Homo sapiens: one gene and its partners. The protein of the gene in region 3 purifies or fractionates together with the protein of the main gene of each other region. This does not show direct contact. Each region holds a gene or a part of one and is shown on either strand. Other genes may lie near its edges. The genes, in order: PRXL2A, TMEM164, TACR1, ARVCF, HACD2, TSPAN3 and ADIPOR1.

The links.
Region 1: the proteins of TACR1 (region 3) and PRXL2A purify together in Homo sapiens (affinity purification with mass spectrometry; 2 studies listed by BioGRID and IntAct, with this or other methods). This does not show direct contact.
Region 2: the proteins of TACR1 (region 3) and TMEM164 purify together in Homo sapiens (affinity purification with mass spectrometry; 2 studies listed by BioGRID and IntAct, with this or other methods). This does not show direct contact.
Region 4: the proteins of TACR1 (region 3) and ARVCF purify together in Homo sapiens (affinity purification with mass spectrometry; 2 studies listed by BioGRID and IntAct, with this or other methods). This does not show direct contact.
Region 5: the proteins of TACR1 (region 3) and HACD2 purify together in Homo sapiens (affinity purification with mass spectrometry; 2 studies listed by BioGRID and IntAct, with this or other methods). This does not show direct contact.
Region 6: the proteins of TACR1 (region 3) and TSPAN3 purify together in Homo sapiens (affinity purification with mass spectrometry; 2 studies listed by BioGRID and IntAct, with this or other methods). This does not show direct contact.
Region 7: the proteins of TACR1 (region 3) and ADIPOR1 purify together in Homo sapiens (affinity purification with mass spectrometry; 2 studies listed by BioGRID and IntAct, with this or other methods). This does not show direct contact.

What each region holds. Positions count from the first base shown.
Region 1 is NC_000010.11:80,418,551-80,422,050, reverse strand, and holds part of PRXL2A (peroxiredoxin-like 2A isoform 1 precursor), read right to left. Parts: intron 2,052-3,500; exon of another isoform or gene 1,586-2,051; 5' UTR 1,584-1,585; coding exon 1,406-1,583; intron 1-1,405. UniProt on the Homo sapiens protein: Involved in redox regulation of the cell. Acts as an antioxidant. Inhibits TNFSF11-induced NFKB1 and JUN activation and osteoclast differentiation. May affect bone resorption and help to maintain bone mass.
Region 2 is NC_000023.11:110,167,114-110,170,613, reverse strand, and holds part of TMEM164 (transmembrane protein 164), read right to left. Parts: intron 1-3,500.
Region 3 is NC_000002.12:75,189,521-75,193,020, forward strand, and holds part of TACR1 (substance-P receptor), read right to left. Parts: intron 425-3,500; exon of another isoform or gene 1-424. UniProt on the Homo sapiens protein: This is a receptor for the tachykinin neuropeptide substance P. It is probably associated with G proteins that activate a phosphatidylinositol-calcium second messenger system.
Region 4 is NC_000022.11:19,971,824-19,975,323, reverse strand, and holds part of ARVCF (splicing regulator ARVCF), read left to right. Parts: intron 1-1,084; coding exon 1,085-1,212; intron 1,213-1,530; coding exon 1,531-1,681; intron 1,682-2,006; coding exon 2,007-2,205; intron 2,206-2,287; coding exon 2,288-2,399; intron 2,400-2,496; coding exon 2,497-2,587; intron 2,588-2,912; coding exon 2,913-2,966; intron 2,967-3,352; coding exon 3,353-3,438; intron 3,439-3,500. UniProt on the Homo sapiens protein: Contributes to the regulation of alternative splicing of pre-mRNAs.
Region 5 is NC_000003.12:123,578,554-123,582,053, forward strand, and holds part of HACD2 (very-long-chain (3R)-3-hydroxyacyl-CoA dehydratase 2), read right to left. Parts: intron 1,217-3,500; coding exon of another isoform or gene 1,148-1,216; intron 1-1,147. UniProt on the Homo sapiens protein: Catalyzes the third of the very long-chain fatty acids (VLCFA) elongation four-step cycle (condensation, reduction, dehydration, and reduction).
Region 6 is NC_000015.10:77,057,610-77,061,109, forward strand, and holds part of TSPAN3 (tetraspanin-3), read right to left. Parts: intron 1-3,500. UniProt on the Homo sapiens protein: Regulates the proliferation and migration of oligodendrocytes, a process essential for normal myelination and repair.
Region 7 is NC_000001.11:202,951,813-202,955,312, reverse strand, and holds part of ADIPOR1 (adiponectin receptor protein 1), read left to right. Parts: intron 1-1,005; exon of another isoform or gene 1,006-1,072; intron 1,073-3,500. UniProt on the Homo sapiens protein: Receptor for ADIPOQ, an essential hormone secreted by adipocytes that regulates glucose and lipid metabolism. Required for normal glucose and fat homeostasis and for maintaining a normal body weight.

The DNA of each region.
Region 1 (3,500 bases), on a different chromosome or scaffold from region 3:
ACTGAAAAAGTCTCAAATTTTTAACCTAAATATGTTACCTGCAATATTATTAACGAAGGAGAGGATAGAAGATGCCTAGGAATAAAATGCTTTGGGGTAGTACAGTACTGTAGTTCAACAAGCCCAGCTCTAAGGTCCAACTGAATCTGAATCTAGCTGTGTAACTCTGGGCAAGTTATTTTTGCTCTTTGAACCTCAGCTTCCTCATTTGTAAAATGCAAATATCTAGTAGCTCCACTTTGGGCCACAGGGCATATTGAAAGATGAATATAAAAGTGCTCACCACAATGTCTGGTAATATAGAGTTGGTGAGGGCTCAATAAATATGAGCCCTTAATTATTTTAGTATTTCCCAGAGGGATCCATGTTCCCGTAGATGTTATGTGGAAAAAAAAAAAATGGGGTCAGGTGGGTGAGAGGGTGGGGAGAAGAGTCTGTAATCAAATAAGATTGGGAAACCCTGGGTTGAACAAAGCTTAACAGGTCTCTCTCTCTCCTAGTATCTTACTAAGGTGACCTACTATAAACCTGCACAATCTCCTGCCTTCCTTTCGCAAGCTTCCTTACTTACTAAACAGATGACGATGACTTCCACCTGGGGGGCTAACATGGTGACCACGCCATCAATGAGACCTTCACCACTCCAACTCTCTTGCCACACCACTGGCATGACTGAAATCCCACCAAGCTACAGCTCTAACACTGAGAGCACACAGCAAGGAGGCAGAGCTAACACATTTGGGTGTGTGGCTCTAAGCTGTCCACAATGGATTCTAGCAGTCCCCCAGAAGAGGGAGATAGGCAGGTCTGCTCTAACGGGTGACCTTGAAGTGATTCCTCAGACACCACAGCTTCTTCACAGGGAGGGGCTGGCCATGCCTGAATCAGCAGCAATCCAGACACCTCATTCTAATAAGCATATGTCTGTGCTGAGCATCAGGAGCATGGAATTGGATAAAAGGTGTCTCCCATACTTGTTCACTCAGGAACTCCTTTTAGTTTGACGATCCCACAAGCCTGGAATTCCTCAGAATACACTCTGGAAGCACTGGTTTAGTAAAAGATTGTAATTATTACTAAATATTATGGAGCAATTTATCATTATAATTACAGAGACAACAACAGAGAATGAGAAATGCTTTTGATAAGAAAAGCTAAAATGTAAAACAGCACCTAAGCCAAGCACAACTACGTAATATGTACACATGGAAAGGAATATGCCAAAATCAAAATTACTGTGTTAGGGTAACAGAATTATTCCTAGTTTAAAAATTGTTATTAAATTTTTCCTAATGTTGTTATATTATCTTTTCAATTAAAAAAAGGAGAGAGTTTAGAAAGAAAGCAGTAAGCCTGTATCCCAGCTCCTTGGAAAAGTACTGAGACCTGAAGGGTCACCACTTACCCTTCTCCAGTGTTTTCAGGTCTATATCCTCCAGGTACTCCAGGGCCGCTTTCTGGGGCTTGGACAGAAACACGTCTGTGTTGGCAAGCAGCAATGCCAAGGCAGCAGCCCCCAGGGCTCCTGCACCAATGGACCACATCCCCATGGTGAAGAAACTTGGGTCCTGGAGGAAAGACATTTCTGGAGATTGAGAAGAAGGAAGAAGGCGTTACTGCTCCCACAGGGTAGCTGGAATTTCATCTTCCAGGCAAGGCTCTGGCAGGACAGCCAACCAGGAGGTCAGGACAGGGGAAGGGAGCAGCAGTGTCACAGGCGAGACTGGACAAGGGCTGCTAAGCACCTGCTGCCACCAGAACTTGGGGATGCAGCACACACATGGAGGTTCCTGCACCGTGGAGCTCACCAGGGCATCAGGAGTGATGACAGAGAAAGGACAGCCTTCTCAAATGGTTCTCTTGCTGCTCTCTCTTCTCATGCCCCAAGTTGCAGCCCCTAGCTCTGTGGAGCTGTGCCGAGCTATGTCCCCTGTAGGCAGACTACTTCCTCATTCCCCTCCTCATCAATGCCTGATTCTCCCTCACAATCCAGGTGGCTCAGGATCATGTCCCTGGGTAGGGGCAGCTTTCTCTTCTGTGATCAGAGGATACTTAGAACACCAACCGCACTGTTTTGTTCCCCTATCTTCTTTCCTCTTTAGTTTGACGACCCTCCAAAAACAGGGACCATATCCTACTCATCAAGCCCCCAGCCAGTGCCCAGCAGGGCCTCATTCATTATAGGCAGGCAGTAATTTCTCCCAATTGAGAAGAGCTTTATTTCTCCCTTATATAAAAACAAAATATGCTTATAGTAAAAAACAAAACAGAGAATACATGAAACCATAGTCGATAAGAAAGCAAATACTCTCTGAAGCTACCACCTACTGATGGCCACTGTTAAACACTGGTGTTTAGTAATCTGACTTTTTTCTCCTGTGAACAGAACTACACAGATGTCTGCCAAACAAATGCAGGTGTTATATCAGAAAGAGGAGGTCCTGGCAGGGCGCGGTGGCTCATGCCTGTAATCCCAGCACTTTGGGAGGCCGAGGTGGGCGGATCACCTGAGGTCGGGAGTTCGAGACCAGCCTGACTAACATGAAGAAACCTCATCTCTACTAAAAATACAAAATTAGCCGGGCGTGGTGGTGCGTGCCTGTAATCCCAGCTTCTCGGGGGTGCTGAGGCAGGAGAATCGCTTGAACCTGGGAGGCGGAGGTTGCGGTGAGCCGAGATCGTGCCATTGCACTTCAGCCTGGGCAACAAGAGTGAAACTCCGTCTCAAAAAAAAAAAAGAAAAAAAAAAAAAGAAAGAGGAAGTCCTGGCAGGGCACGGTGGGTCATGCCTGTAATCCCAGCACTTTGGGAGGCCGAGGCAGGTGAATCACGAGGTCAAGAGATGGAGACCATCCTGGCCAACACAGTGAAACCCTGTCTCTACTAAAAATACAAAAATTAGCTGGGCATGGTGGCGCATGCCTATAATCCCAGCTATTTGGGAGGCTGAGGGAGGAGAATCGCCTGAACCCGGGAGGCGGAGGTTGCAGTGAGCTGAGATTGTGCCACTGCATTCCAGTCTGGTCATAGAGCAAGACTCAGTCTCAAAAAAAAAGAAAGAAAAGAAAAGAAAGAGGAGGTCCTATGGCATCTGCAGAGGAGGCTGGGCAAAAGACAGCTGCATAAGATAAAGGTCTCTGCAACTGAAATGGAGCTCCAGGCGGGTTCTGTCAGAATTCAGCCTTGTTCCTGGCTTCTTCTGCCAGCTAGGAAGACTTGTGCCTGTGGGTGGGAGCTCCTGGAAGCAGCCCACAAAGTACCCCCACCTCCAGCCTTCCTTCTCCCAACAACCACTTACAATATCTATCTTTCCATTTGGTCCTCACGCCATCCTAAGCTCTGGCATACACTGGTGCCTTCTTCCCTAAGTACCAGCCTGCTTCTGTGTGCTTAGATCACCGGGAATAGGCCTGGGAGTGGGTGTGGTAATTGTGTGGCCCACCTCACCCCAGCCCATCGAACCTCTGACTCAAGTCTCCCTTGCAGGACTTGGCCGGGAG
Region 2 (3,500 bases), on a different chromosome or scaffold from region 3:
CTTGGAGAATGGGGGCATGGTTTATAGGATGTTGTGGGTATCACTCTGAGTGGGAACTCAGAGTGGGGAATGCTGAAGAATGAAAGGGACCTGGAACCCCCACCCCAAGCAATTAGGGTTGACATCATATCCTAGACTATTATTTTCCCAAATCAGTCTTTCACTGATTCATCCATTCATTCAACAGTTATGAGGCACCTTGTGTATTCCAAGTCCTGTGCAAAGCTTTGAGGACAGGAAGATAAAGAAGGCAGGTTCCCTGCAACTGCAGACTCACAGTCAACAACTACAACACAGGGTAGCTGGTGGGATGACTGAGGTCTGCGCCACCTGTTATGGGAAAACAAAACTCAGCCAGGGGCACAAGGAATGCTTCTTGGTACAGCAAGTACTGGTGCAAAGCCCAGAAGGACAAATAGGACTTAAGGAGGGGCCTAGGAATTCCAAAGCACAAGCTTGCATGGAGACAGACAAGAGTGGGGCAATTCAGAGAACTATGGATAAGGGTTCCATGGGGCCACAGGGGAGAGTGTAACGGGGCAGTTAGCAGGTACTAGCCTCAGAGGTTCGCAGGGCTGGTCTGCTCCAGGCTGCGACACATAGGACACTAGAAGCCATGCTGAGGGCTTTGGGCTTCATCCCATGCACCAGGGTCATGAACTCAAATGCCCCAACTCTCAGGCAGATAATTGGAAGCAGGGGTGCGACCAGGGCCTAAGAGACACTAGGGGATGCTGGAGACTGTCAAACTGAAAAGCCCACACCCCTTCTAAAGAGGGCAACCACCACTCAGCTCCATCCAATCATTGCCCTGAAGGGATGTGCACCCAGAGTTACCAGTTCTTTTCACTTTTGCAAGAGAAGCCAATATATATGAACTTTTATGTGAAATTTCCTGATTTTCCAATGTTGGCGACTAATTCAAAATGTTTTAAGAACATTTTGGACCAAGCAAAACATGTCTTCTGAATGGATTTCAGCCCATGGGTGGCCAGCTTTGAGCTCTGCTGTAGAGTCACAGAAAGCAGAAGTTTTGAAGCAGTAAGGTGAGGTGATCACGTGTGTCTGCAAAGGATCACCCTGGCTGGTGTGCAGGGGATGGACTCAAGCAGACAGAGTCGAGGCAGGGAGGCTGGTAAGAAGATTGCTACAGGAGCCCAAAAAGAGAACAGGATGAATGGCCTTGGAAGGCAACAGCAGTGAGGCTGGAGGAGAGTGGGGGGAAAATCACCATGATGTGGAAGAAGATTGGAGAAGATTGTTGGGGAGATGGGGGTTGGTAAGGGAGAGGAAGGATCTTGGAAAACTCCCAGTGTTCTGGCTGGGGTATCACTGGGTTGATGGTGCCATTTATTGCCATGGAGAAGAGAGGAAAAGGCAGATTGGGACAGAAGGGAAATGATGAGGCCAAGTTTAGACATGAAATTGAGGTGTATGTGGAATATCCAAGTGGAAATGGGTCTTTGGCGGCTGCCTGTACTCTAGGACATATAGTGTGATGGATAAGAGCATGGGCAGTGGAGCTCAACAGGTAGAGGTTTGCAAATCCTGGCCCCATCACTTATCAACTTTGGGGCCTTGGGAAAGTCTCAGCATCTCTTGAACTCGGTTCTACTCACCTATAAAATGGGGTGGCACTGCCTAATTCACAATGTTGTTGGAGAGATGAGATGAGATAATATACCGTAATTACAGTATTGTATCTGGGATTTAGCAAATGCTGATTATTTTCATTGTTATATGAGTCACAAACTCAGTGGAGAGGATGGGGGCGAGCATGGAGATGTAGGTGTCATCAGCACACAGTGGTAACTGAAGTCATGGGAACATACGTAGAAAGAGAGAAGGAAAAGGCCAGAGGCAGAATGCCAAGGAAAACCATGTAAGGAGAGCATGTGGGCGAGAAGAGAAAGGAGACTTTCTTCAGTGACTAAAGTGGGGACCAGGGCTGGGGGCTCTTCTGTGGAAGAAGCTCAGGCTTGCTTTAGGCTCATGGCACATCTGAGTCAGAAGGCCCTTGCAGACATAGATATCATTCCCTCCATTTTATAGATGGAGAAATTCCAGGCTAGAAGATGGGCAATGTCACAGCCAAAGTCATAAGAGCGGAGCACTGGAGAAATGAACTCTCACGCACTGCCAGGGGACTCACTAGGGAGCTCAACGCTCCTGTTGCCACTTGTGAAGGCCTCCAGCACACAAGTTGGATTGTCTCTTCCCTTGTCTGTCCAACCCTCTAGACCAAGTGCATCTCAGGGTCAAGGACCATGTCAGGCCACTTCTGCATTCCTAGCATCTAGCACAGTGCTTGGTGCGTGAAAATGCACAGAGCTATGCCCTTAAGGCATGCACACATTCCTGTCTGCTGAATGAGTGTGGACTGGGCACCGTGTTGTCACCCTGGCTGCGGTGGGCATACAGGGGAAGAGGAGGCCTGGAGGACAGACAAGGGCTTAGGCTGCCACTCCTCCCACTGCTGGAGCCCCCAGTCCTGTTGTCCCGGGTGCCCCCTCCCTCCATCCTCTCTGCTCGGCGCCCCCTAGTGGCAGATGGGCAGCAGTGACTGAGCCAACAGGCGGTGGCAGGAAAGCCCGTGGGTGTTGGTGGGGGGTGTCCTCAGCCAGGAGGCAGCTCTGCAGCCAGCCCTGTTATCATGCTCCTCCCGTCTTGCCCCATGCTGCAGAGGGAAAGGAACACTCAGAGATACTACCAGGGGACACTGTTTCTCAGTGCTCTCACTGCCCCTTGCCCAAACCCCGACTTTAGTAGCATTCATTCTGTGCTGCATCATCCATCCCATACCAGACTGTTAGTTCTCTGAGAGAGGGGCTGTTTCTGAATTACCTCTTCACGTCCAGCACCTGGTACACAGTGGGCACTCCAAAAGTAATCACTGCTTGGGTGAATGAATGGTATAGACTTTCTGGAGAATCATAAAATTATAACTCTTTGCCTCAAAAATACTACTTTGCGGACCACCATCAAATACCTAAAAACTCCAACAAACCACCCTAATTTGCGCAAAGATATTTACACCTGCACTATCTATAATACTGAGAAACTGGAAACAAACCAAGTGGGGAGATAGTTACATAAACTATGGTACCTCAACATTGTGCAACAGAGTCCACTACCATTCAAATGACAGCCAAACTATGTATCTGTCTATGGCTGGTAATGGCAAGGACAAAAGACAAAACACCAGGCAGTACACAAATGGCAGAAAATACAGCTTAGTAGTTTAAAAACAAAGGCCTTGGGGCCATGTAGCCTTGGGTTTGAATCATGGCTCTGCCACTACCCATAGGAGTGACCTTGGGCAAATTGTGCTGCCCCTCTAAGCCTGTTTTCCTGCTGGTGGGCTGAGGGTAACATCTACCTCTAAGGGCTGGTGAGTGGAAAAAGAGAGATAAAAGTATATACGACAGCTATCCTGGCATGCAGATGGCTGCTGCTATTTTTTATCATGGCGACCACAACCATCCAAAATCTTATAAAAG
Region 3 (3,500 bases):
TCTGATATATTAGAGAATTTGACTTACAAGATTTGCAATTTTAAGTGTAACACCTAGGAGGATTTAATGAATTAATTTTGTAGTCAATGTTTGGATGCTCAGGAGAACCTGAATTTATCAGTTTAATTCTCAGCAGGTTGAAATGCTTTAAGAGAATTTGTGTGCTAAATTTAGAAGTTTTGATTTATTAGTCTTACAAGAACTAAGTAAGTCCTGAGAAAGATTTTGTTTCTTCTATTTGTAAGTCTTCCTGTTAGGGATTTGAAGATTTTAACAAAGCCAGATGTATCAAATTTGTGAGTATAGTTTGAAATGCTTAGAGGAATTTAATTAATCAAGTTTATAAATACTGTTTACATTTTGAAAGATTATTTGATTTGTTAAGCTTATAAAAATTGTGACTAATAAAAATATGTAAGATTGATTTGATTAAGTTTGAAAATGGTATTCAAATACTTAGTTGGAAGTATTCTATCTCATGTTTAAAGATTTATTGAGCTTTAGTCAAAGAACAAAGGCAAATGAATGTTTCATACTTTAATGCACACAAACTAGATATATAAGAAAACTTCCATGATTTATAAAATATGTTCAAAGGCTAAAAAACACTGTAACTTCAACAAATTGAATATCAATTAAAACTCACGCAGCTATAAGAGCTTTTTGCAATGAACACATTCTCATTCAGATATTAAACAATGATGCTCACTCCATATAAGGGTGGTGACTTTGTGACATAAAGGATTGGAAATGAATGCTTAGGGGATGGTGTAAAAGAAAACATTTGGGTTTTCTGGACCATGATATACAATATCCAAATGATGGACTACTGGTAGACTGTGTGTACATTTCCAAAGATGGAAAGAATGTTGAAAAGCATTTAGCAAGAGATTTGCTGACCCAGTCAGGACAGTTTTAAACTACCATCTTTAGGGGGAAGAACATAAATGTTTTACCCTGTAGCTATTGTACTTGATGTAGAAGGAATCCAGGAGGAGGCTGAGACAAGAATGGACACGTATAATGGATATGATTGTGTGTCAGAGTTTACTAGAGGGCATAATATTAATTACTATTAATTGGTATTTTAGTGGTATTTAGTGGATGTCAGACTTTTCAAATCTTTCCCTCTCTTCTTACCTTCTACAAGGTAAGTTTCATTATAACCATTTTATCAGTTGAGGAAACTGGGGGCCCAGATAGGTTAAATACCTTGCATATGTACACATAGCTACTAAGTGGTAGAACCAGCACTGGAACCCATCGCCTGGGCTCTTTCCTAACCATTCTACTGCCAAAGGCTAGGAGTAAGTTTATTAAAGGGTGCGCTCATACAAAAGACATGAAAGGCACTCAACAGGGAATCCCAAATATTAAACATAGTGATAAAGCTGAATTGGAAAGTAGATTAAGAACTATACAAGAGAAGGGCAGGGGATTAGGCCCAGGGCTGCTTAGACAAATTAATTTCCTTGAGCAGTTCATATGTAGCATTAAAACTCATGCTGATTCGTATGTCTCCAGGTCATCATAAAGCACCTCTTCATCTTTGGTGCTCCTCATCCAGAGAGCTTCATATTTCCCCTTCCACTGAGGTGGAATTGAAGTCTCTCAAGGTGGCAAGAGAGAAGTTTGGTGCAATGTAAGCCAGTTCCCCAGTCAGTCTCACATACGTGGGACTTCACATGCACCACTTCATGCTGGAATTTTCCTGTGTCTATCGTATTTTTATATGGTGTGAACAATGCAGGAGTTGGAGGGCTGGGTGGAGAGTAGGTTTCTCCTGGTTTCACCTCAGCAAGGACAAGTAAAGGAGAGAGTGCACCTGCTGCTAGTGGGGGGTGTTAGAGAAAAATCCAGGGGGTTGACAGCAGTTAGGCCAGAGAAGGGTCCATAAGATGGAGGAGGTGCTTATCATTTTCATCTCTCTGAGTTTCTGGTATGCTTGGGTAGACGGGAGGTAAGATGGTAATGATAAGCACCTCCTCCAATCGGAAGTCTTTTCCTGGGGCACAATACCTGTTGAGGGTGGCAAGGTGTGGGTCAGGTATCCTGTGGGGCTCAGTCAACTGGAGTGTGGAAGAAGTAAGTGTGAGTTAGAAACCATGGTTATTCTAGAACGGGGGTTCTGAATCAAAAGCATTCTATTTTGTAACAAACCTTTATGGTAGGGAGAAATTTGGCCCAGTTTTTCTTTTGCATCAAGGCACAGCATCGTAAGTGTGCTATACGGTCTGCTTGAGGCATCGGGTCTGGTTTTTAGATTTTGGCTGATGTGTGCAGAAGAGAAGCATGGTCAGTTTGCTCATGACGCACACATTTTAATGAGTACCTACTCTGTGCCAGGCACTTGGATAGGTTCTGGGAACAGGAAACAAAATAAGGGATCCCTGTTTTCATGGAGCTTGCAATCTAGTAAGCAGGGAGGTGTGGGAGAGATAGACAAGGTACAGACAGTTGCAACACCACGGGATAAATGCTGTGGAAATATAAGGACCCCTCAGCTAGACTTGCAGGTCTAGGACAGCATCTTAGTATAAGCACTGAGCTAAGTCAAAGAGGACAGCAAGGTCACTAGGGAGGATGCCAGTCCTAGGTGTCTAGGTGATGCTAGACAGAGTGATGGTAGTAAGGTAACTCTGTTCTGGTCATCTCCTTTTAAGAGGGCCATTAACAAATGGAAATAACCAGTAGAGACTAATGATGATGATGTAAAGTTGGAGGAACCAGGGACAGTTAACCAGAGCTGGGGATGCTTCAAGATAAATAGAAGCTTAATACCTTATCCTTATACTTACTGGAAAGCCTGCTACGTGGAAGAGGCCTGAGACAAGTAGGAATAGTCCAAAACCAAAGAGGCAAATTTCATTTCAAGAAAAGGAAGAATTCTGTGATGATTTAATAATTTATTGAATTTAACAAATGGGAAAAATAGAGTAGAATATTTAAGCAGAGTTTGGTACTCTTACAATGGCCCTGTTTGGAAAGTTGAGGGGTTGAACTTTTATTTGGGTGGAAAATTGTCAAAAAGGCCTCTAGTATTTTCTCTTGTGTGATAGGACTCTTACATTGCTTTTCTGCCTCCAATGACAGTTTTCCTTAAATGAGGTATCATCCAAAAGCCACCAAGTGCAGGAGCATGTAGGCAGATGTCTAAGGCACATAAAAGCAAATTGCATGGGTCTTCAAGCTGTGAGGGGGTGGAGAGTGGGAGGACAATGCTAAAAGAAATTGTTTCTAATCGCTCTTCCAGGTTGAAACAGAATCCTCATTGGCATGATGAAGATTAAATGAGACAATGGACTGGAGGGAACATAAATAAAAGATATCATTATCAATTTTATTAACATAAAACTTCCTTTCTAGTTTCCAAATGATGGATATTAATAAATTATTATGAGTATTCCCAATCCAGTGTTCTTGAAGTTAATTAAAACACAAAACTCCACATTCATTTCCCTGTGCCTTGCTGCCTCTCTTCCTCTTTGTCGTTTCCTCCT
Region 4 (3,500 bases), on a different chromosome or scaffold from region 3:
GCCAGGCGGGCATGCTCACATCCAGGTTCAGAGGCTGGGCCAGACGAACACCTGCAGGGACAGGGCAGTGCCTATTGGGCTGTATGCTGGGATCTGGCTTGAGAGAGAGGTCTGTCCTGGTGGGGCCTAGCCAGTTGGAAGAGCCTGCATGTCACCAGGGTGGAGGGCTCCAGCCGCAGGAGGGCTGTGGGGGAGTATTACAGGCAGAGCAGGGCTGATGCAGATACCCCAGCGGGGAGTGTGCTTGGAGTGTGTTGGAGCAGAAAGCCCAGCAGGGCAGGAGTAGAGGGAGCATGGGGCATGAGGACTGGCGAGGGTGTGATGAAATGTCACTGGGTGGGTACAGGGGAGATCGAGGTAGTACCCAAGCCAGGCTGAAGCCCCAGTTTGGAGACAGGCAAGCTTGGAAGGCTGTTTTGACCCCTCATTTCTGGAGCACTGGGCAGAGCAGCAGGACGGCGCCTCAGTTGCCCGGGAACTTGGAGTGGTTGCCAGGAAGAGTGCCTCCTGTTGCTAGGGCAGCTGCCCTGGTTGCACTGCATCAGTTGACTTACAGAGGGTGGGCTCTATTGTCAGTGGGGGAGGGTGGGCCCTGTTGCTAGGGGGCGTAGCTCTCTGCACAGCTTCAGTTACTGGTGAAAGCAGGTCCTCTTGCTAGGGGTGTGGCCTTGGTTATACAACTCTCAGTTACTGGCCAATGCTGGTCTTGTTGCCAGGGAGGGTGGGCCCTATTACCAGGGGCGTGGCCAGGATGCATAGCTTCAGGGACCTACCGGGAAATGCGGGTCTTGTTGCTAGGAGAGCGTTCCTGGTTGACACCTCCCTCCCCACCCCAGGCCTCCTGGATGCTCCTGCTGCCAGGCAGGTCCAACTGATTTGAGCCTCAGTTTGTTCCTCTGTGAAATGGGAACGCTTTTCCCCTTGGGTGACTATATGTTGATAGTAAATATTACGTGACTCATCCACACCCATCCCTGGCCCCAGCTCACCCACGCCCTGGGAGCTCTGAAGCGGGAAGCGGGAGGGGTATGATGGATGAGAGCAGATTCTGGGTGACCGTGGGTGGCGGTTGCCCTGCACCTAGGCTTTGAGCTGCTGTACCAGCCCGAGGTGGTACGTCTCTACCTCTCCCTCCTCACGGAGAGCCGGAACTTCAACACCCTGGAGGCTGCCGCCGGCGCTCTGCAGAACCTCAGTGCCGGCAACTGGATGGTGAGGGACCAGGTCGGGCAGGGTGGGCAAGTCCTGAGAGAGGGAATCCCAGGCACCTCACTGGTGCAGCTCCTGCCTCGGCTGGCGGGGAAAGGAGGGGCCACACCACCACCCCAGGATCCAAGAGGTGTATGGGCTGCGGGCAATGCGTGCACCCTGGACGGTGGGAAAACCTCGGTGGAGGTGCCGTTGAGCTTTTGGGGTAGGGCTTTGTCGGGCACGGGAGCAGGAAGGTCCAGCTGGAGAGAGCGGTCAGCGTCTGGAGGTGGGAGAGTGCCTGGCATGTATGTCTGAGCAACCCTCTCCCCGCCTCCGCAGTGGGCCACGTACATCCGCGCCACAGTGCGCAAAGAGCGCGGGCTGCCGGTGCTTGTGGAACTGCTGCAGTCTGAGACCGACAAGGTGGTGCGCGCCGTCGCCATCGCTCTGCGCAACCTCTCGCTGGACCGGCGCAACAAAGACCTCATCGGTGAGGACGCCTGCAAAGCCCACGCCTGGGCACCGAACTGTGCCTGCAGCTTTGGGGTCCCATCGGAGGGGCTTGGAGGATGAGTGGTTTGGGAGTCCAGGCCCCGGCCCTCTCGCTTGGGCGCTGTCCCAACTGGAGGTAGCTCCAGTCCCCCCGGCCCTGTCTCTGAAGCTCAGCGCCCTGCTCACAGGGGCTCCTGTGACCGCCTGCACACAGGCGGTCTCCAGGGGCTCTCCTGGCAGTGCCCCTCGCCCTCGCGGGATCCCTGCTCCTTCCTGGAGAGGTGGGGCAGAGGTGTGTTCTGACACCTAGTCCTGCCCCTCAGGGAGCTACGCCATGGCTGAGCTTGTGCGGAATGTGCGCAATGCACAGGCTCCGCCGCGACCGGGGGCCTGCCTGGAGGAAGACACCGTGGTGGCGGTGCTCAACACCATCCACGAAATCGTGTCCGACAGCCTGGATAACGCGCGCTCGCTCCTGCAGGCACGCGGGGTGCCAGCGTTGGTGGCTCTCGTGGCCTCCAGGTGTGGAGGGGCGGGGTCGGTGGCTTGGGGAGCCGCGGAGGTGGGGGAGGGGCCACCACTGACCCCGCCCCCGGCCCCACAGCCAATCGGTACGCGAAGCGAAGGCGGCGTCACACGTGCTGCAGACAGTGTGGAGCTACAAGGAGCTGCGTGGTACCTTGCAGAAAGATGGTTGGACCAAGGCGCGCTTCCAGGTGCGGCTTCCCTGGCCTTCCTTCCATTCCCTGCTCACTTTGCCTTATTCCCACTCCATGTGCTTCACCCACCCTGTGTCTGTGTTTTATGTCTCAGTCAGCTGCTGCTACTGCCAAGGGGCCTAAGGGAGCACTGAGTCCTGGGGGCTTCGATGACAGCACGCTGCCACTGGTGGACAAGAGCCTTGGTGAGTGGTGGAGCTTAGGGAGCCTAGAGGGTGGCGACCCCAGCTGCCCCAGTTGCCTGACCCTTGGGTGAAGGTGAAGGAGGAGTCAGGCCTCCCACTGAGACGGCTTCCATAGGCCACTTTCCCTGCCCTCTGCCTCTTGGCTACTCCCTTCCCACAGCATCCGCGCTGTTGTCAAGCTGGGGTGAGGCTGCCAGCTGGCAGAGGTTGGGCACCTTAGTGACAGAGAGCCTCTAGGGCTACCTGGGCCAGCCCTGTGTGGGCTTCTCTGCCCCGATCCCCCCTGGCTGCCACATGCAGCCCGTCTCCTCCTCCTGCCTTGCAGAGGGCGAGAAAACTGGCAGCCGGGATGTGATCCCCATGGATGCGCTGGGCCCAGGTGAGTGCAGATGCAGTGTGGTTGGTTTTCTGTGCCGGGAGGGGACCAAGGCCTGAAGTGGGCCTGCTGGTTTTATGGGGTGTAGATGGTGCTGGGTGGAGGAGAGATATTTGGTTTAGGGGTGCTTAGAGGGTGAGGTACAGGGCAGCTAGAGAGGGATTAGTGCTCAGCCAGGGGCTCTGACCCACAAGTGGAGGGGAGTCTGGAGAGTTGGCAGGGTGTTGGTGAGAGCTGGCACCAGCCTGGATCTCCAGGACAGGGTGGGTGGGGGCTGTCTCCCAAAGCCCCTGTCCCACGAGTCCCCTGTGTCTGGGCTGAGAGGGAGATCTGCTCCTACAGGGCCTCCCTCAGAGCGCCCCTCATGCCCCACCTTACCCCATCTACAGACGGATACTCCACGGTGGACCGGAGGGAGCGGAGGCCACGGGGCGCCAGCTCTGCAGGAGAGGCCTCTGAGAAGGAACCCTTGAAAGTAAGTGGTCATGTGGCTGTGGGCAGGTCCCCGGTGAGGCCCCGTGTCTAGGGGTTGCTGGA
Region 5 (3,500 bases), on a different chromosome or scaffold from region 3:
AGCCATGGTACTCAGCCAGGCTTCCTTTTGTACCTTGCTACTACATGCTCCTTTGTACTTGCTTGGTAAATGTTTTTATGTCTTTTAAAAAGCAAAGTGTTATTATTTTCTTAAGAAGATGTGAAATTGGAGAACAAGTAATTTCGATTTCCTTTTTAAGTAAACTCCCACAGAACCTAATAAAGAATAACATTTAGCATAAAGAGATATAAATGAGTAGCTGCCTTCCCTGGATTCATTTTCTCCTCCTGTAAACAGGATATATGTCAACACTAATAATTCCCATCAGGATAACTTATGTGTAATTAAACAATACCACACACATCTAATTATTACACAGTGTAGATGGGGTAGGCAATGAAAAACTCCTCAACCACAGAAATTGTGGTTTTAGCAAGCCTGCTCTATCGCCCAGTCCAAGGGATTACTTCCATCACTGACCTTTGCAACGTTAATTGCCTGCATGTTCCTGGGAGTCTTCACTTCCTTATGCACAGACATTTTCCCAAAATCAAATCCAGGATTTGTCACTTAATTGGTTCTTAGTGGGGATAACAGAGATAAAACCAAAAATCCAAGATATTTTCCTAAATCCCTATTAAAAATTCTATAAGGATAAACAGGCTAATCCTTCAAAGTCTAAGACTTGGTTCCTGAGTGGATTTTAAAGTATGACACTGTTTAATGTCCCTACCTTCCATAAGATATACTTAAATTTTAAAAATTATACTTCTAACATTACCAAGTTTTTTTTTTTTTGAGACAAGGTCTCACTCTGTCATCCAGGCTGGATTGCAGTGATGCAATCATAGTTCGCTGCAGCCTCAAACTCCTGGGTTCAAGCTCAAGCCTCCCATTTCAGCCTCCCAAGTAGCTGGGACTACAGGTACCCACCACCCAGCCCAGCTAAAAAAAAAAAAATTTTTTTTTTGTAGAGATGAGGTCTTGCTATGTTGCTCAAGCTGGTCTCGAACTCTTGCCCTCAAGTGATCCTCCTGCCTTGGCCTCCCAAAGCTCTGGGATTGCTGGGACTATAAGCATGAGCCACTGTGCTCAGCTCTAATATTATGATGTCTTAAAGAGATAGAAACCCCTTTAAATTATTGAAGTATTCCAAATGGGGACAACCCCCTACTATATCAAGTACTGGAAGTCTGATGGTCTTGACTCCAAATTTGCTTCTCTGTAGCTTGTGGGAACTGTACTGGCCAAGGTTCTGAAAGAGAAAGTACTACTTATTTACTAGTGTCCGCTTCCAAAAAAAGTTCAAGCCTCTAAGTTTAAAAAATGGTTCACATTAGGATTTGTTAAAATTTCCTCACACTCAAATTTAGGGTAGTAAGGGACTTTAGAAATCTACTTTAACCTAATTATTTACAAATGAAAAGGAGGTGGATACGAGAGAAAAGACTTGCCCAAATCTATAGAGTCAGTTGGGAAAACTATTATACTTAAAATAAAAAGGTACTCAGGCTTCCAGCTGGAAGCTCATTTCATCATACCACCTACTTAAAATGCCTAAGTTTGGACACTATTGAAATTCCTCTGTGTTGCAGTGAGCCGAGATCCCACCACTGCACTCCTGCCTGGGCAACAGAGTAAGGCCCTGTGTCAAAAAAAAAAAAGAAAAAAGAAAGAAAGAAAAAAAGAAATTCCTCTGCCTTCTAAGAGAAAAAAACAAAAGCAAAATGGATAACTTTCTGATCTAGAACGTGAGAGTGAATCCAGCCTGGGAAACACAGCCAAACCTCACCTCTACCAAAAATATAAAAATGAGCCAGGCACGGTAGTGCACGCCTGTGGTCCCAGCTACTTGGGAGGATGAGGTGGGAGGATGGCTGGGGCCTGGGAAGTCAAGGCTGCAGTGAGCAGTGATCACACCACTGCACTTCAGCCTGGGTGACAGAGTGACCCTCTCTCAAAAAAATAAATAAATAAAGTGAGAGTGGGCTGGGTGCAGTGGTTCACGCCTGTAATCTCAGTGCTTTGGGAGGCTGAGATGGGAAGATTGCTTGAGCCAAGGAGTTTGAGACCAGCCTGGGCAACACAGGGAGACCCTGTCTCTATGAAGTTTTAAAAATTATCCATGTATGGTGGTGCAAGCCTGTGGGCCCAGCTACTCTGCAAGCTGAGGTGGGAGGACTGCTTGGTCCCAGGAGTTCAAGGCTGCAGTGAGCCACGGCCATGATGGCACCACTGCACTCCAGCCTGGGCGACAGAACAAGACCCTGTCTCAAGAAAAAAAAAAAAATTGAGAATGAAAGGTAGAGGTATCACACTTCATTTCATGAGATAAAGAATTTTTTTTTTTTTTTTTTTTGAGACAGAGTCTCGTTCTGTTGCCCAGGCTGGAGTACAGTGGCGTGATCTCAGCTCACTGCAACCTTGCCTCCCAGTAGCTGGGACCACACGCCCGTGCCACCACACCCGGCTAATTTTTGTATTTTTAGTAGAGACGGGGTTTCACTGTGTTAGCCAGGACGGTCTCAATCTCCTGACCTCGTGATCCACCCGCCTCGGCCTCCCAGAGTGCTGGGATTACAGGCGTGAGCCACCGTGCCCAGCGAGATAAATGATTTTTTCTTAAGTATCATTCCATAGTTCAGGTTTTAAAAGTTGCCAGTAAAGTATAAATGTTATGATGGTCTTGCCTGGAGGCTAAGCAAAATGAACCAGATCTTCCCTGCAATCTGAAGGTTTTTCACCATAATGAAATATACGAACTATGGCGGCTATTGATTTTGTGTGCCCAAAGCTATCCCCATCCCTCTTTTCCATAAGCAAAGTCTATAGTCCCTTGGACAGAAGAATGGGCATGTGTCCTAAGATTGGCTAATCAAGCACCTCACATCACTGGCATAGTCTAAGTAGGGCCAACCAGAATCCTCTCTGGGAACTGTGTGACACAGATGCTGCGAAAAATAAACACCCTCCCTGTTTCCCACCATGTGGAGAGCCCAAGACCAACATTCAAAGAGAAACAGACAAGCAGAAATGAGAGAAAGCAAGAGAATCTGGCAGTGTCAGCTCCTTGGTTCTCATTCCTGAGCTAGTTTCTTTGTAAATTAATCCTGTATCTGTATCAACTACAGAGGCCAGAAAATTCCTTTTTTGCTTAAAATAGTTTGAATTGGGTTTTTGTCCCTTGCAATTCCAAAATCCTAATCTATACTTACCCCAAGAGAGAGGGCTGGATATACATTGCCCTTAATGCAGGGAAATCAATACATTTTTGTTAAATTTTTAAAATTTGGACGCCTCTAGACAGGCTCTCTATTATGTCTTCTATCTATCACTTCCAATATCCTACACCCACCAACTTCACTATTTCTATTACATAAACCCTGAAAGCATCTGATTTTGCCAGTGCTTCCCCAGGATGTCCCTAGAATTTTTAAAAATCCTAATATAAGCTTGCTTCAGTTGATTTCCCAAAAAAGTCGAATATAAAATACATTCAAGGTAACCTAAGTTAAATGAGATTCTACCCAATCTAGAAC
Region 6 (3,500 bases), on a different chromosome or scaffold from region 3:
AAACATTGTTTTAAAACTCTCTTCCTCTGGCTTCCAAGAGGCCCCACTGCTGGTTTTCTTCCTACTTCCCCAGGTGCTCACTTTTTCATTCTCTTCACGGACTCTGAGATGTTAGTGATCTCCAGGATTCTGTCTTCGGCCTTATTCTTTAGTCATTCTCTGGGCTCTCCGTGGGCTACAGCAGCTATGGCTTCATTAGTCATTGTAGCTCACTACCTGAGCTATCATCTCAGAACTACACATTTCCATCTGCAAGTTCCAGAGACATGTCATCCTCAACCTGTCTCAAACCCTTTCTGCCTTCCTGCCCAGCCCATCTAATCTTCCCTTACATTCCTATCATAGCAAAAGGTACCAGACATCTAATTTTTCTGGTCAAACATCTGAGGATTAACTTTCCTTGCCCCACCTCTATAACCCATAAATCACAAAACTTCAACTTTACTTCCAAAACATTATTCGAATACCTCAACTCCTCTTCAACCCCACTGCAGTGCTTCTGTCTTAATTTGGGCCTTATCTTATCCCCCTAAATCTTACTTATTGACTCTCCCTGCATCTTAATACATTCTTTATACTACCAGGGTTATATTTATTAAAAATACAAACCAGATCAAGCCATAGCCTTACTTAAAATCAGGATGAGGCAAGTGAGTCCCCGATGAACCAAGCTATTCCTCCTTTTCAGCCCCAGATCTCATTACCCCTTGTGAACTATGAACAATATAGAACTGTTATACCCAAATGGACCACATATTCTCTCACTTCTTTGCCTCCGCTGTTCTCTCTAGAATGCTCTCTTCAAATGCCTGGGAACTCCTTGTCGCTCATTAAGATGAAGCTTAAATGTTACCTCTTCCTTTTGGAAGCCATTCTTGACCATTTCAGGCTGGATTAGCTGCCCTTGGTGGACACAAACATCTCCCAGTGCATGGTTCTAACAGAATATTTATCGAAACGGTTGCAATTATAGCTATACCTGTCTCAACACACCTTGAGAGCACGAATTGTACCCATCTGTCCTTCACCCTTGTATCATCTAGAACAGTACTTGGCAGACAGCAGGTATCAGTTAAAGTTTATTGAGTACACCTCATCTCACCCCTTTCCCTTGAAATCACCCTCCCAACTCTATCATAAGCTTTGGTTTGTATTTGCGTTGGTTTGTATTTGTATTTGGTTTGTATCTGGTTTCTCTTCAGTTCAATGCTTATAGCTTTTAGTTCACTATTCAATTATTTGGCAACTGAATCCAGCTTGCTGAATTCTGATGGCCATTACATCTGGAATATGTTAATATATCGTAAATATGTCATAAATATAAACACTGTACTTACAGCAAACTGCCTGTTCAAAGGTTCTCAGAGTTCACTGACATATTTGCTTTTGGGGCATGGTACTAGAGAATGAAGGTGAGCACAAAAGTGGGGGGGAGTGGAGAAGAGAAATAGTTTAATTTATCTTAATTTTATTTTATTTTATTTATTTTTTGAGACGGAGTCTCACTCAGTCGCCCAGGCTGGAGTGCAGTGGCGCAATCTCAGCTCACTGCAGGCTCCGTCTCCCAGGTTCACGCCATTCTCCTGCCTCAGCCTCCCGAGTAGCTGGGATTACAGGCGCCCGCCACTACACCTGGCTAATTTTTTGTATTTTTAGTGGAGACGGGGTTTCACCGTGTTAGCCAGGATGGTCTCGATGTCCTGACCTCGTGATCCGCCCGCCTCGGCCTCCCAAAGTGCTGGGATTACAGGCGTGAGCCATTGCGCCTGGCCAGACATAGCTTAATTTTAATTTGGGTGCATTTATTACAGAAGTATGTCAACTACTTAACACTCTTCCCAAATACCCCTTTTTATTGACTACTTGTGTGATATATATTCACACACATGTACACACACACATTTTGCTAAAGTAAATAGTATCAGTCCTCACGCTAAATTAGAAGCAATCTGAAGTGCAAATTAATCAAATTTTGTCATTTGTTTTTATTAGACGTTTCTCTATCCTTTAATGTTGTAGGTTTTTTTTACTCTAAAAGGCAGTATTTATTTCTTAAAAGGCTTGAGTTAAAATGAATTCCATTTCTGAGCTTTCGGTACACCTACTGAAACTTCACTAGCTTTAGCCTATGTAAATTCGAATGAAAATAAGAGAAAACTGGAGGCCATATGTACTTAACAATCAACCTGAAGCACAGTTCACTGAAGAACTACTTGCATTTTAGATATAAATTGATGAGTTTTCAATCTAAAGAGGTTCCTATGAGACTCACACTTAGTGCTGCTTGGAGGTGGGCCAAGGGAAATGTTTCCTCTGCTGCCACTGCCTCTCCCCCCTAAAAGAGGCACTCATCTGAAACTGAGACTACAAGAAAGCAGAAAAACCAGCAACAGAGACAACCAGATGCACAACAAATGCAATGGAGGGCTGTGGGGAGATGCCATTTGTAAAGCTGCCTCTTCTTTTCTGATAGACTCTACAACAGTTTTTTTTCCCAGGCTGCAGTCAACATCCAAGTCACACAACAAGATGAGAACATAACAAAGCTCTATTTGGCAACATATAGTTAAAGGAACTTACTAGTTGCACACACCAAAGAGAAAACTGCACGGATTGCTGATATGAAACTATACACATCAAATTGCTTATAAATAGACGATGTGTTTCCTAAATTGAAAACAGCTTCAAATTTTGCTTTTACTGAAATCTGTATATGGTGCTTATATCTTAAGCTGTATAATAAACAATTATGAAATGACACTGGTTACTTTGAAAATATAGAAGAGGTATCCCAGTAGCAGCTGAAGACCTAAAAACAGCCAAAAGTAATTGTTGTAATGATATCCAACCATCAATATGAAAAACACCCAAAAGAACATGGGAAACAGTATAGTAAATGGAAGAGAGGTTCTAAGAAATTCCTAACTAGTATGCATAGGGACTTTGTCATCCCTCAGATTTTTAATGCAGAAATTGTGGCTATCAGAAAAGCTATATAAAAGGTGAGCTTAAATTCTTCTTTTGAAGGGCCATGATGGGATTGAGATCTATCAAAGGATCTGAGCTTTGCCAATAAAGCAGCTGCAAAGGAGGGGGCTGGGGAGGAGGGAGGTGCAACAGAAAAGGAGATGAAATGTAGAACTTGGAAGCAGCTGAACTGCTTTAGTCACCACTGAGAAAATCTGAGCCTGTAAGGAGGATTTGTGCCAGGACAGTGTACTAAAAATATTCATCCTTTTTACAAAGAAGTGAAAGGAAATTTAGGCAAAAGGCTGAGGTCTGAAATTACAGAAAGAATAATTTTTAAAAAACCATTATTCTTTATCTTTTAATAAGCCTATACTCTAAATTAAGTCACAACATTTTAAAACTTTAGGAGAGCCAGTGCTTTTCCACTAAGCTGTCTAAAAAATAAAGCCATCTTGTTATAAAATTTTGCAAGTATATGAGTTCCAAAAGTATGATACTTCATTTTATGCTTTTACCCTTCCTCTACATAT
Region 7 (3,500 bases), on a different chromosome or scaffold from region 3:
CACATTGAGGCTACAGTGAGCTGAGATCACACCACTGCACTCCAGCCTGAATGACAGAGCAAGACCCTTTTAAAAAAAAAAAAAGACTTCTGTTGGGGAAGAGCTACAAAGGAAGTCAGACTGTTTTTCCACTTCAGAGTCTGGGACGCTTGGCATCGAGTAGGAGAGCTGAGGCCCTATATACTGTAGTTCGGTGATTTCAAACATGTGCCTTTGCTTTGATTCATATTTCTCCAACAAAGCTGTGAAATTATCCTGCCTAAGAGACAGTAGATAGGGGAAAAATGGCTGTATTCTTTATCTATACTGCTAGACTGGTCTTGCTTTAGGACAAGAATCAAGCTAGGTATGGATAGAGGCTACCCATAGACTCTCTAAAGGCCCAGGAACTAAACTCTTAGAAACTTTGTGTCTTTGCCTCCAGGAAAGGTGTGCCGTAGCCTGGAAAACTTGGGAATTGGTTCACAATATAAATGTCTCCAAAAACTATAAGTGAAATAACTCTCCAGCTAACTGGCTGGTGATTAAAAATCAATCTTTTCCCCATGTTTGGCACAGGATTATCTTATTTATAGGAGTACAAACAACCTCCCTGCTCCACAGCTTTACTCTCTAATATCCTAGGTTTACCCAGTTGGAAAGCTTAGTGGTAAAGGTTTATTAGCTTGAGTTGAAGAAATCTCATCAAAAATGCACTCAGTCGAGTTTGGCTCAAATATAATTTGCAGTATTGGGTGTGGCAAGCTTGAGGGGAAAGGCATTTCCTCTAAAATACGTAAGGACATAGAAAGCTGGCAGAAGGTTGGCTCACCTAGGATCGTTCTAACACCTTAGGGGTTTGTTCTGATTTTACACCATAGACTAAAACACACTTGTAATTCTCCATTGTTTGTGAGTGATCCACCCCATAGAAGTGGTATTTTCAGATCCTAGTATTATTTGCTCTTCTTTCTTGCCAGACGTCCGATCCCTATCTCTCCCTTTCCTGTCTCTGTGTTACTACAGTTTAGAAGACCAAACTGGACAATGGACTTTGCTCACTATGATGACATGATCTCCATTGACCTCCATTGTATGTACTTTAATGCATGATGATATATTTTGTATGATGAGTTGTAGCTGATGGCTGGTTTGTGAGTTAACTGGGGTCTCAGGTTTTGGTGACTCTGGGTCTAGAAGATGTAGAGAGGTGGTATAGGAGCTAGTGATAGAGGAGCTAGAGGGAATCGGAAGAACTAATAGTAAATGATTTGGACTGAAAAAGGAAAAGACTTTGATGATAGCCAGAAGACTTGAGGGCATAAAAACTTTTCAGATCAAATGATGAAATTAGTAAGAATGCCAATCTGGATTCTGCACATGATCTTTGGACCCTAATTGCCCAACTTAAATTTTCTCTATATTATTCTCATTGCCTCTAGTAAAATAGTTACATAGCACTCAAAGTTACTAAATTTAGTGTGTGACCATTCTAGTTGAGGGGTTCTCTCCCTCCACTGCCCTCCTGGAGCAATCAAATTGTATCACTTATTTTTGTGCATATCACAAACTACCTATGTTATCTGGCTCTTTGAAAACAATACTATAACTTGTTCAACTTGTATTTTGCACAGTGTCTTGTATTTTGCACAGTGTCTTAGAATGCCTTAGGGTGCTAGTCCTAAATACACTTGCTAAATATTCAATGAATGTGTTGACTTACTCTGGGGAAAGGGATAAGAGAAGCCACCACAAGCACAAGAAAATGCACATAAGCCCTTATCTAAGTGGCTAGAAGCTAAGTCATATGCTGGCAAGCTGGAATCTGCCCCATTCATTCATTCATTTTGAAATGGGTTCTAACTAAAATAAAGTATATTTATTATTTTATGATCCATGTATTGCATCTCAGAACCAGAATTTTGTTTTGTTTTGTTTTGTTTCTGCCCTGGTAGCCTGATCTAAGTTACTTCCAACAGTAACTTAGTAAGTAACAAGCTAAGTGTGCCCCTCTTTTCAGATTTATCTAAGATGCCCAAAAATATTTATGTTTTTTGCTTGTGATATAAAGTTGTTTTTTGGTTTTTTTTTTTTTGCTTGCGATATAAAGTATTTTTTAGTAAAGCTGCTGATTCAGTAGTACTTCACTTTGAGGAAATATGTTTTGAGGTCAGCCTATTGAGAAAGATTTCCTTGTGTCCCTCTCACACGGGTTGCCCATCCTCGAGGTTTTCATAGGCTTCCAGCTTCCTGTTCTCCTTAGCTCAATTGTTCACTATGACTGTGTGCTGGCATCTCGTCAGAGTCTTGCACATTTAAAGGAAGAGGAACTGTCTATGTGTTGACACCATATAAAGGTCTGCTGTATAGCAAGTTATTGTTTTTGTCTCTCTTGGACTAGATTGCCGGTTGCTTTCAACTGTGCTTGTGGGTTGAGCATAGCATGACTCATGACTGTTTAGAAGCTTGAGGATTGCCCTTACCTGATGTGTTAGTAAGTGTTCTCCAGAAAGCACCAATAGGATACATACATATGGATAGAGATGGGATTTATTCGGGGAATTGGCTCATGAGATTATGGAGGCTAAGTCCCACACTATGCCATCTCAAGCTAGACAATGAGGAAAGTCCATAACTGGTTCAGTTTAAGGCTGAAGGCCTGAGAACCCAAGGGGCTATTGGTGCACGTCCCGGAATCCCAAGGCAGGAGAACCTGGAGTTTCTGATGTCCAAGGGCAGGAAAAGAAGGGTGTCCCAGCTCCAGGAGGGAAGGAGGGGGAGAGACAGAGAGAGTTAGGGAGTCAGAGAAAGAGATTTATAATCCCTGAGAAGGAATTGTGATTACTCTTAGATAAAAAAGAACTGACACAAGATATCAAAGATATTTGTATATAGTGAATAGCCATGGATGATATAGTGTCTCCCTCAGGAGCAAAGTTATGTTTACTGCCCAATATAAAAGATTGGGGCTCCCTAAGCTTAAGTTTCCTCTCCCGGAATGCAACCCACTCCATGTGCAGTTGTTACCTGGCCCTCCCTGCATTGCAATGTGGTTATTTGGGTTTGGGTGGGGCTTGGGTAACCAATGCAAGAAAATGCTAATATTCTGGCTACTGCTATTGCTATAACTAATAAAGTCCTTTGTATGGGGGTAGAGGTGGGGAGAGAACTAATAATTTACAGCATAGTGGAAATCTTTGGAAACTTTCTCCCTCTTTCCCTCTTTTTTTATTTGCATTTCCCTGAGGCCTGTTTAAAGACTACTGTGAAAATCCAACCCAGGAAAACCTAAAGTGTCTGAGATTTTTCCTAGAAAATGGAATTCTGGGTTTTTCTGATTTTGTGTGTGCCTGTCTCTAGTTTCTGAAATACTCATTTGAGTAGGGCTTAGATTATGGGTTGTGGTGGTTGAAACAAGTTATTGTGGAGCTGGTTATTAGGTATGTGTGTGGCAAAGGGTAAATTGGGGCTGCCTCCTTGTCTTCACCTTCCTGCTTCCAGGTAAGTTCTTGCTTGCTTGC